Linked DNA regions of Homo sapiens. The protein of the gene in region 1 interacts with the protein of each later gene in a pairwise test. Each region holds a gene or a part of one and is shown in the gene's direction. Other genes may lie near its edges.

What was found. The genes of interacting proteins can lie anywhere in the genome.
Region 2: the proteins of SRD5A3 (region 1) and NUDT15 interact in a two-hybrid assay, tested with the Homo sapiens proteins (one large-scale study listed by BioGRID and IntAct).
Region 3: the proteins of SRD5A3 (region 1) and ADK interact in a two-hybrid assay, tested with the Homo sapiens proteins (one large-scale study listed by BioGRID and IntAct).

What each region holds. Positions count from the first base shown.
Region 1 is NC_000004.12:55,370,242-55,373,600, forward strand, and holds the end of SRD5A3 (polyprenal reductase), read left to right. Parts: 3' UTR 1-2,859; downstream 2,860-3,359. UniProt on the Homo sapiens protein: Plays a key role in early steps of protein N-linked glycosylation by being involved in the conversion of polyprenol into dolichol. Acts as a polyprenal reductase that mediates the reduction of polyprenal into dolichal in a NADP-dependent mechanism.
Region 2 is NC_000013.11:48,044,224-48,047,721, forward strand, and holds the end of NUDT15 (nucleotide triphosphate diphosphatase NUDT15), read left to right. Parts: intron 1-1,436; coding exon 1,437-1,576; 3' UTR 1,577-2,998; downstream 2,999-3,498. UniProt on the Homo sapiens protein: May catalyze the hydrolysis of nucleoside triphosphates including dGTP, dTTP, dCTP, their oxidized forms like 8-oxo-dGTP and the prodrug thiopurine derivatives 6-thio-dGTP and 6-thio-GTP.
Region 3 is NC_000010.11:74,395,721-74,399,220, forward strand, and holds part of ADK (adenosine kinase), read left to right. Parts: intron 1-2,750; coding exon 2,751-2,859; intron 2,860-3,500. UniProt on the Homo sapiens protein: Catalyzes the phosphorylation of the purine nucleoside adenosine at the 5' position in an ATP-dependent manner. Serves as a potential regulator of concentrations of extracellular adenosine and intracellular adenine nucleotides.

The sequences.
Region 1 (3,359 bases):
GCAGTGCCACTCAAGAAAATGAATCTCCAAAGTATCTTCAAAGAATAAATACTAATGGCAGATCTGCGATTTCTGGGTCCACTTTCTGAGATGCTTTCTAAAACCAACCAACTGATAAAAAGTAGATGAGACTTCTCCAAGCTGCTTCACAAGCAAACTAACCGAAAAACCGAAAATATACAAACAGCTTCACACACACACACACACACACACACACACACACACACACACAAAGGAAGATCATCAATGGCTGCGGTAGCCTAGTAGGAATGGACTATATAATAATATAGCAGGTGCTCAATAACTGTTTGTTGCATTTCAGTAAAAGCAGAATAACCTTTCAAAATAATAACAGGCTGGGTGCAATGGCTCACACCTGTTAATCCCAGCACTTCGGGAGGCCAAGGTGGGCAGTTCGCTTGGGCCCAAGAGTTCGAGACCAGCCTGGGCAACATGGTGAAACCCTATCTCCGTGAAAAAATATGAAAATTAGCCAAGAGTGGTGGCACATGCCTGTAGTCCCAGATACTTGGGAGTGGGCTGAGATGGGAGAATCGCTTGAGCCCAGGAGGTCAAGGGTACAGTGAGCCGAGGTCATGCCACTGCACTCCAGCCTGGCCTGGGCAACAGAGCAAGACCCTGTCTCAAAATAATAATAATATATAATTTTACACCAAAAGTTTCAGGAAAAAACGAGTTTGTTGGAGTTAGTTTATACTTTCACATATCACCACAAAGATCTCCAGTTAAATAACTATCAATATCCATTTCCATTCATCTCCCCCTCAAATCATAGCCTAACAGAACACTTTGAAAGCTCTTTTATTTAATATTTTTTTACATCCTTTGAAGGGAGTGCTTCAAAAATGAAAGCATCAGAAGATAAAATATTTTTATATTTATGCATAGCAAGCCTTCGTGAACGGAAGTGACACACTCTGGATTGAATAATACTGTAGCCTCATTCATATGTAGTTATTCAAATTGGATTAATGTCTGTGTGAGTTTATTTGAACTAGCAGAAAGTATCTGAAGATATTCAGGAATAAAGTTTATACTTAAAATAGCTTATGTTAAAGAAAATACCTGTGATTAATTCAGAGGGAAATAAATGCATGGTATAAAAGAAAACCAAAAACTTAAAAAATAATACTATAGCCTGAGCAACACATTAAAACTGCACACTTGTGCAGCGTAAGATTCTCTGGCTTATTGGCTGAGGTGTTAAGTTTATTCCTTTTATGAAGATGTCCTATTACAGTCAGCTAAGCACTAAAGCTTTGCATTTATATGTACTTTGCTATGGGGGAAAGAACCTTATGATTAATAAGACACATATCAAATGCATAGTCAATCATTCCCACCCCCATCCCTGGAGCTGTAACCCAAAACTGTTAAACTAAGATTCCTTTGTTTTTTTTGTTTTTTTGAGATGGAGTCTCACTCTGTCGCCCAGACTGGAGTGCAGTGGTGGGATCCTGGCTCACTGCAACCTCCGCCTTCTGGGTTCCAGCGATTCTCCTCTGCCTCAGCCTCCCAAGTAGCTGGGATTACAGGCACATGCCACCATGCCCAGGTAATTGTTGTATTTTTAGTAGAGATAGAGTTTCACCATGTTGGCCAGGCTGGTCTCAAACTCCTGACCTCAGGTGATCCACCTGCTTCGGCCTCCCAAAGTGCTGGGATTACAGGTGTAAGTCACTGCTCCCGGATGCATGTCAAGCACATTGGAAAGTTCTTACAACAATTCTGATGGAGGATTTTCTCTCCCATCAACCAAACACCACTTAAGATTAACCTGTGGCTCAGTCTACTTAAATAAATGCCATATTTATTTTACTTATCATTTAGAATTTGCCATTCTCAGGAACAAAACTTTTTGTACATTGGAAATGGAAAACATTGCAGTTTGGTCTTAATTTCCACATGAATATCAAGTGTAATTTTTAATAAATTATTTGGAGAAAAATGTATTTTATTTTAGCATGCAATTTTATGCCCAGGTTAGACTAGAGATTTGGCTGATGTTCTGGAATCTCATTGTACTCTTAAGTAAAATAACGAGCATCCCATGACGCACCCTGTCAGGGGTTGTGAGAAAGCTGCAGTGTCCAGTTTCCCACCCCTGTTTCCTGCTGTCTCTCTCCCACTCATCCCTGTTTCTTACTCATCCCTTTTCCTTCTTTGCCCAAACATCATATTTCTAGGCAAAGATAAGAGAGGAGATAGTGATGTCCTGAAAGGGGTTCAGAACAACGTAGCATGGCCTTTGGTGAAAGCGTCACCGATGGGAAATAATTGAGAATTGTGCAGTGCTTGCAGCGTCAGAATCAGCACTGTTTTTTGTGTTGGTGAAAATATTCCATGTGCGTAAAGGGAGAGCATCAGGGACTTTGCAAATTCTTCACAAGGACCCAGAAATAGCTTAAAGATTCATGGTTTTCCTGTTGGCTTAAATAGCCTTAATCTTTCATTTTCTACTACCATTAAGTCGGGGAAATGACATTGAACTACCTCATTAGCAGCCTTCCCTTGATTAACTACTGACTAAAAGTGTGCTGAAAATGGCCTTTGTTTTTGTGAAGCTCATCCTATACACTAACATTTGCTTAACCATGGATTATTTTGTCTCTACAAAGCTGTGCCCTGTATTCGATTTTTACTTCAATGAGTGGTTATTGCTAGAATTCCTACAAAAAAAAAAAAAACCGTTGCAGATATTTTTGTATGTAGCTTAATAGATATTTAGTTTAAGGAGACTGCAACATTTGCATAAGGTGCCTAAAAACTCAAGAACCATTGATAAGTGAGATCACTCAAAATGAGCTGATATATTAAAGAAGACCTTAAAACAGTAAATGAGCAAGTCGAATTTCTTTACCCCTGTAACCTGTCTAAGCAACTTCTGCCCACTCTTTCACATTACTTATTGGGGGGAAAAAAAACAACATTCAACTGGTTTTTCATAAATACATTAGTCTAATCTAAGATTTTCCTGATAAATAGATAAGAAACAGTGGAGAGGCCAGTGATCCATAAATAATGCATATGATACCTCATCTTTTTCTCAAATAGCAGTGATCTCCTAGAAAGCCAAGTATTGGTTTTGGGAGAAGAAAAACCTAATTATCCAAATGAAACTATACGTCAAGAGCTACTTTATGCATATAATTGAGAAAGTATAATATCGGGTCTCTTCCTTCAAAAAGACTGAATGCTTGAAGCAATTTGAGGATACCAGTCCACAAGGGGTTTTACAACAAAAGGGCACATCTTGCTCAAGTTCAGCCCTCTGGCTTAAACCCCATGGTGCATATGCAGTCTTTATCAGAGCTCCCTGGCCTACACAGCACCTTTCT
Region 2 (3,498 bases), on another chromosome or scaffold:
AACTTTTTTATTTGTTCACTTTCATTTTGTTAACTCCCTGACATGAACCTTGCTAGTAGTCTCAAATAAAGCAGTATGATTTACAAGGTCCAAGATTACTAGCATCAAATCAGATTTGATCAAAAACATTTATTGCTCTATATCTGTTAGTAACAATACAGCAGGAATTATGTTCACTTTATTCCCAGTTGCAGCCTGATAACCAACTACACTGATAACCAGCTGCAGCCTAGCCAAGGTACAAGGACTTGGTGGGTCTTTGTTTTATTTCTAGGATAAAGACACAGTCTCTCTATCCCGTGCTCCTCAGGCCTTGGATCTGGGTAGCCTGCTTCAGTTTACTATTTAGTGCATCTTTCCTCCAACCATCTAATTATAGTTCGGAGGCTCATCCAGACACTTCATTTTCTAGGGGATGGGGTAAACTTCATGGATGGGTTTTTGGAGACCTGGTTAATTAAGCATCTTGCACCACATTGTTGGGTACTCAGTCTGTCTGTGTCTGTCTGTCTGTCTCTCTTTCTCGCTCTCTCTCTCTCCCTCTCCCGCCCTCCCTCTCCCCCTCCCGCCCCCACCTCATTAGTGTATGGTCACAGTTACTGATCACAGTTACTCTTCCTGTACTTATTCCAGTTTCATGGATTTTCGGCCCCTGCATTCCCAAAGTGAAAATACGTACCTATATACCTGTATTTTATGGACAGAAAGATACTTAGTGCTTACACATAGTAAAAACAGGTGATCATAAAGAAACTAGAACATGGAGTGTGTATCTTAATATAATATGTAGGTATTTGTCATAAGCATCTGTGCGTCTATGTTATTTACATTTAAATCATGAAAGAAACACCATTCTCTAGAATCTTTTTCTAGAATTTCATGTACTTTATAACTGATAGACACTGTTAAATCTTTGTTTCAATGGATTTTTAAAAATCATCTCCTTCTGTATTTGTTTAAAATATACCAAGGTACAATATTTTATTTTCCTCTGCACAGCTTTCTACTTTTTTAAGAGATGGAGGATATCTTAGAAACTTTGTAATCTACTTTATTTTATAGGTGAAGGAAGTGGTTTATTTTAATGTAGTATAACCTATAGTATATAACGTTATTTGCATTTTTTACAAAAATATTTACATAAACATTGACTAATACTAAATCTGGGTTTACCATGGCATAGCCTTTGTAAACTGGGCTTCACATTCAAATAACACAATGTTTTAAATGACCACCATTCTCTTCATAAGACCTTCATTCTACATGCAAATTATATTTGTATAGCCAAGCAAATGCAAAGCATCACTATGAGTTTATTAGTAGCAAGTTATTTTTAAATTCAATTAATTTTTTCTAAATATAGGTTAGCTTACCCAAATAAACACCCTTTGTTTTCTGTTATCTAAATAAATTGATTTAGCATCTTTCTTTTCTAGGTTGGGAGTGGGTTCCTTGGGAAGAACTACCTCCCCTGGACCAGCTTTTCTGGGGACTGCGTTGTTTAAAAGAACAAGGCTATGATCCATTTAAAGAAGATCTGAACCATCTGGTGGGATACAAAGGAAATCATCTCTAGGTGGCCGAGAAGATTTGATTTTCTTTAAAAAGACAAGAATAAGGTCTGGTTAGGGAATGAAAAATGTATACATTTCGGAACAACTCCATTTTATCTAAAAAAGTTCTTGTGATTGCCAGTTTATTTGCAGTCTCTTAATGTATCCCCCACTCTTTCAGCCAGTACTTGAGAAAATTTTTCTGAAATATGTCATTGAATTGTATTCCAGACACAGAATACATGATAAATACTGATATTATGGGTAATCTGCTTTCCATATTTACCTATGATATTTACTGTGCAGTTTGTCATTACTAGCTTGCATGGAGTAGGATGCAGTCAAATTTGCCTTAGTGTTTCTGTTCAAATAGAGACCTGAATTCAAATATTGTAGTTTAGGTTCAAACAGAGTATGGCTGTTGCAAAATTTACCAAATTTGTTGATTACCTCTTTTATTAAAGAAATGTTGGGGAGAGGGTAATATATTGTGACAATTTTTGCAACTTACAGGGAATAGGACAGGTCATTAGGGTGTATTTCCCAGGTTTCCAATTGAGAATCTAAACCAAGAGAAGTGAGACAAACCATCTAATATCTGTATCATGCTATTAATAGGCTGTGATGTTGAGTTTCTCACTTACTCTTTCTGAGGTCCAGGGTCCTTATATGAAGAGATTCATATATATGAAGAGATTCGTCTAGAGCAGTGGTTGTCAAAGTGTGGTCTGGGGGGGCCTCAAGAGCCTTTCAAGGGTATTCTAGGTCAAAGCTGTTTTTATAACACTAAGACATCATTTCACTATTTATAGCTTTTCCTTTTTTTTATTTGAGAAGGAGTCTTGCTCTGTTGCCCACATTGGAGTGCAGTGGCACGATCTCAGCTCATTGCAGCCTCCGCCACCTGGGTTCAAGCAATTCTCCTACCTCAGCTTCCCGAGTAGCTGGGATTATAGGCACCCACCACCACACCTGGCTAATTTTTGTATTTTTAGTGGAGACGGGGTTTCACCATGTTGGCCAGGCTGGTCTGGAACTCCTGAGCTCAAGTGATCTGCCCATCTCAGCCTCCCAAAGTGCTGGGATTACAGGTATGAGCCACAACGCCCAGCCATCATTTATCTTTTTCACTCATTTTTTCATGAGTATGCAGAGGAGTTTTCAAGAGGCTATCTGGTGTGATATTGTAATAGGCTGAATGCAAAAGCAGATACAAGATTCCAGCTTTCGTCTGTCATCAGACATTGAAGAGATTTGGAGAAATGTAAAGCAGCAGTACTCTTCTCACTAATTTTTGTTGTGGTTAGTTAGAAAAATGGTTATTTTTAGTGGGTTTTAATATGTGAAAAAAATAAAATTAGCTATTTGCCAAAAATGTTTTTATGTGTTTATATATACTTGGTTCTTGTTACTTGCAAATGATTAATAAAAATTTTAAGAAATTTCTCAGTTTTCATTTCTATATGATAAATATTTCTAGATAAAACCATACAAAAACAAAATCTCTTTGTGGTCCTTGGTAATTTTTAAGAGTACAAAGGGATCCAAATTTTTGCCAGATTAGGCCAAAAGCTCACATTTTTAATTTTGAGCGCACTTCTGTGAAATCCTGTGCTTCTCTTAGAGTTGATTACCTTTGAATTTTGCTCTTTCAAAAGACCCCAGTACTATCATAATACTTGCTAAGGAATCTTTTTCCAGTGAGTATCATTTTTTAAGTTCTTTCTTGTTTGCTTTTTCAAAATTATATATGTACATTGTATAATTTGTCATGTAGAAATCTCATTTTCTTTTTTTTTCTGAGACAGGGTCTCACTCTGTCAACCAGGCTGGAGTGCAGTGGTGCAATCTCGGCTCACTGCAACCTCCAGCTCCCAGGCTCAAGGGATCCTCTTGCCTCGGCCTCCTGAGTACCTGGGATTACAGGTATGGTATGCACCACCAC
Region 3 (3,500 bases), on another chromosome or scaffold:
CCTAAAGAACAGTTATGGTTGGGTGCAGTGGCTCACGCCTGTAATCCCAGCACTTTGGGAGGCCGAGTCAGGTGGATCACCTGAGGTCAGGAGTTCGAGACCAGCCTGGCCAACATGGTGAAACTCCGTCTCTACTAAAAATGTAAAAATTAGCCAGGTGTGCACCTGTAATCCCAGCTACTCGGGAGACGAAAGTAGGAGAATTGCTTGAACCTAGGAGGTGGAGGTTGCAGTGAGCCGAGATTGTGCTATTGCGCTCCAGCCTGGGCAACAGAGCAAGATTCTGTCTCAAAACCAAAGAGAGAGAGAGAACAGTTATGATAATATTAGATCTTCTGGATGTCAAAAACTTAACTTTTATACTAATTTTATGGTTATAGTGATATTGTTGAGATGATATGGGACTCAAAAATTGGGGAGAAATCTTCAGTATCTAAATCATTATCTAAATTCTGGAAGCTAATACAGTTGGATCAATTGTTTTGGATAGGTCCAGTAACCTTTGCTGCCACTATCAAAAACTCAGAAATTGGCCGGGTGTGGTGGTCACACCTTGTAATCCTAACACTTTAGGAGACCGAAGTAGGCTGATCACTCGAGCTCAGGAGTTTAAGGCCAGCCTGGCCAACATGGCGAAACTCCATCTCTACAAAAAATACAAAAATTAGCTGGGGATGGTGGCATGTACCTGTGGTCCCCGCTGCTTGGGAGGCTGAGGTGGAAGGATTGCTTGAGCCCAGGAGGTTGAGGCTGCAGTGGACTGGGGTCGTGCTGCCCACTGCACTTCAGTCTGGGCAAAAGAGTGAGCCCCTGTCTAAAAAACAAAAAACAAAACAAAAAATTTCAGAAATTGAAGTGTTTGGGTAATGCAGTATCTTTCTTGATCCAGGTTCTTCCTCTTCAAAGTCAGAATCAAATACGTTGGGATAATAAGAATACTCATATTTTTCTGGTCGGGCATGGCAGCTCATGCCTGTAATCCCAGCACTTTGGGAGGCCGAGGCGGGTGGATCATTTGAGGCCAGGAGTTTGAGACCAGCCTGGCCAACATGGTGAAACTCCACCTCTACTAAAAATACAAAAAAATTAGCCGAGCATCATGGCGGGCACTTGTAATCCCAGCTACTTGGGAGACTGAGGCAAGGAAATTGCTTGAACCCGGAGGCGGAGGTTGCAGTGAGCCAAGACGGAGCCATTGCTCTTCTCTAGCCTGGGCAACAAGAACGAAACTTCATCTGGAAAAAAAAAAAAAAGAATACTTTTATTTTTCTTTTGGAGAAACTGTAGTTTCCCATCAAAAAGTAGTTTTATTATCAGAATAGAGTTTAGTATCTGGTACCAGAAATGTTTGCTTTTATTTGGTAGCCATTTTGTCAAAATTTTCCTAAAGTCATAATTACTAAAATATTTTTATAAATTAGGTCTAAATTTTCTTAAGTTTGTAATATAGTTATTTTGTATATGAATATGTTGATGCATATTACTCTTTCTTTCCTTCATTTACTTGAACATAAACAGATGTATCCTTTAGTAGTAAATTGGCAGATGGATGAGTGGAAATACGTTTTGGAAGAGAATTGAGGTTTTTTTTTTTAACAGTGTAATCGAACATATTACCAAAGTCTGAAATGATAAGATTTTTTTTGTAAGCTATAACTGTTACAATTTAATTAGAAAAAGAGAAAAATTGGCAAGTAATTTTTTAAATTCTGGAGCAGTATGAGGAAGGAAAGTATTTTTATTTATAATGTAAATAATTATTGTATTTATTTTTAATTAAACAAGCCAAGTGACACTTGTAGCAGGATTTTATTTATTTATTTATTTATTTTTTAGAGATGTGGTTTTGCCTTGTTGCCTAGGCTGGAGTGCAGTGGCATGATCATAGCTCATTGCAGCCTCAAACTCCTGGGCTCAAGCAATCCTCCCACCTCAGCTTCCTGAGTCCCTAGGACTATAAGTGTGCACCACTACCCCCAGCTAATTTTTAAAATTATTTTGTAGAGATGGGATCTGGCTGTGTTGCCCAGGCTGACCTCAAACTCCTGGCATCAAGCAATCCTCCCACCTTGGCCTCTGAAAGAGCTGGGATTTCAGCTTTGAGCTACTGCACCCAACCTGCAGCAAGATTTTAAATGCAGTATCCTGCTTAGATATTCCATTTCTAAAATTGGACCAGTCAGGGGACTTTTCAACTATAGAAAACAATTCTAATTGATTTCAGCCCTTAGAATGTAATGGTTTACAAATTAATTCCTCTTAGCGAATATGGTCTACATTTATAAGTGTCTTTTACGAAATTAATTCCATATTTGGCTTTTAAAGGCTTCGATTAAATAGACAATTATAGTATGTTGATATTTATTTTTATAAAGATATTTTTCTACTTAAAAAATGTTTTTAGTTGCATAGATTTCTTTTTATATAATGAGTTAGCCTTATTTCTTAACTGCATTTTGAACTATTAAGGTGTAAAAAGTAGGTCCTATTTTACTATCAAAAGGCAACTTAAATGCCAATTTCTTTCTCAAAATACCAGGTGTTGTTTAGAACAAAAATTATCATAGATGCCTCAGAAAGTTCTCAAAACAAAATTATTATTTATATTTATTTAAAAATCAATAACATTAGTTTTGAAGAATTAATTAAAATGTAAATTTTAAACTTTGCAAAAAATATTGGTAATTATCTATTGAAACATATGCTAAGTTTGACTATAATATTACTTGCTTATTCTTTGGTTGTTTTAGGTCCCTCATAGCTAATCTTGCTGCTGCCAATTGTTATAAAAAGGAAAAACATCTTGATCTGGAGAAAAACTGGATGTTGGTAGAAAAAGCAAGAGTTTGTTATATAGCAGTAAGTACTTACCTAATTCAAATCTCTAGTACATATTTACATGATGGATTATAGTTGTTGTCTGATATATATTTTAAAATAATTATCTTTTATTTACCCTGCAAATTATTTATCTCTCTCAAAGCATATGTTAGATTCACTATTGTGAAAATAGAACAGAAATCATTATCTTTCTATGGGTAACATAATTTGTATTATTTATCTTCAGGTCTACCTATTTTTGGATACATTATGCATAGGTGCTTGCCAACCAAGCGCAGAATTCTATATTAAATCAGTTTCCAAATATATTTTAAAATAATTCTACAAACTTACATCTTACATTTGTAGGCAACTTGCATTGTGCAGAAAAATATTAGTAGTATAAATATTCACTGCAAATAGTTTGAGCTGAATTGCTTAAAAAACTTAATTGCTATTTATTCCATAGTAATTACCATGACACCTCTTAATTTAATATTTCAGAAACATTGATCGTGACAAATCTCTTAAATCTGGGAACAAGGGCAGGGTGTAATTTGAATTATTAAGTCTTCTGACACAAAAATAATTGGTTAAGAATTTATTTCTAAAATAGGATGGTACTAAAAATTCTGAATTAATCACCCCATGATTACCTTGTTTTTATTTAATATGTGTTA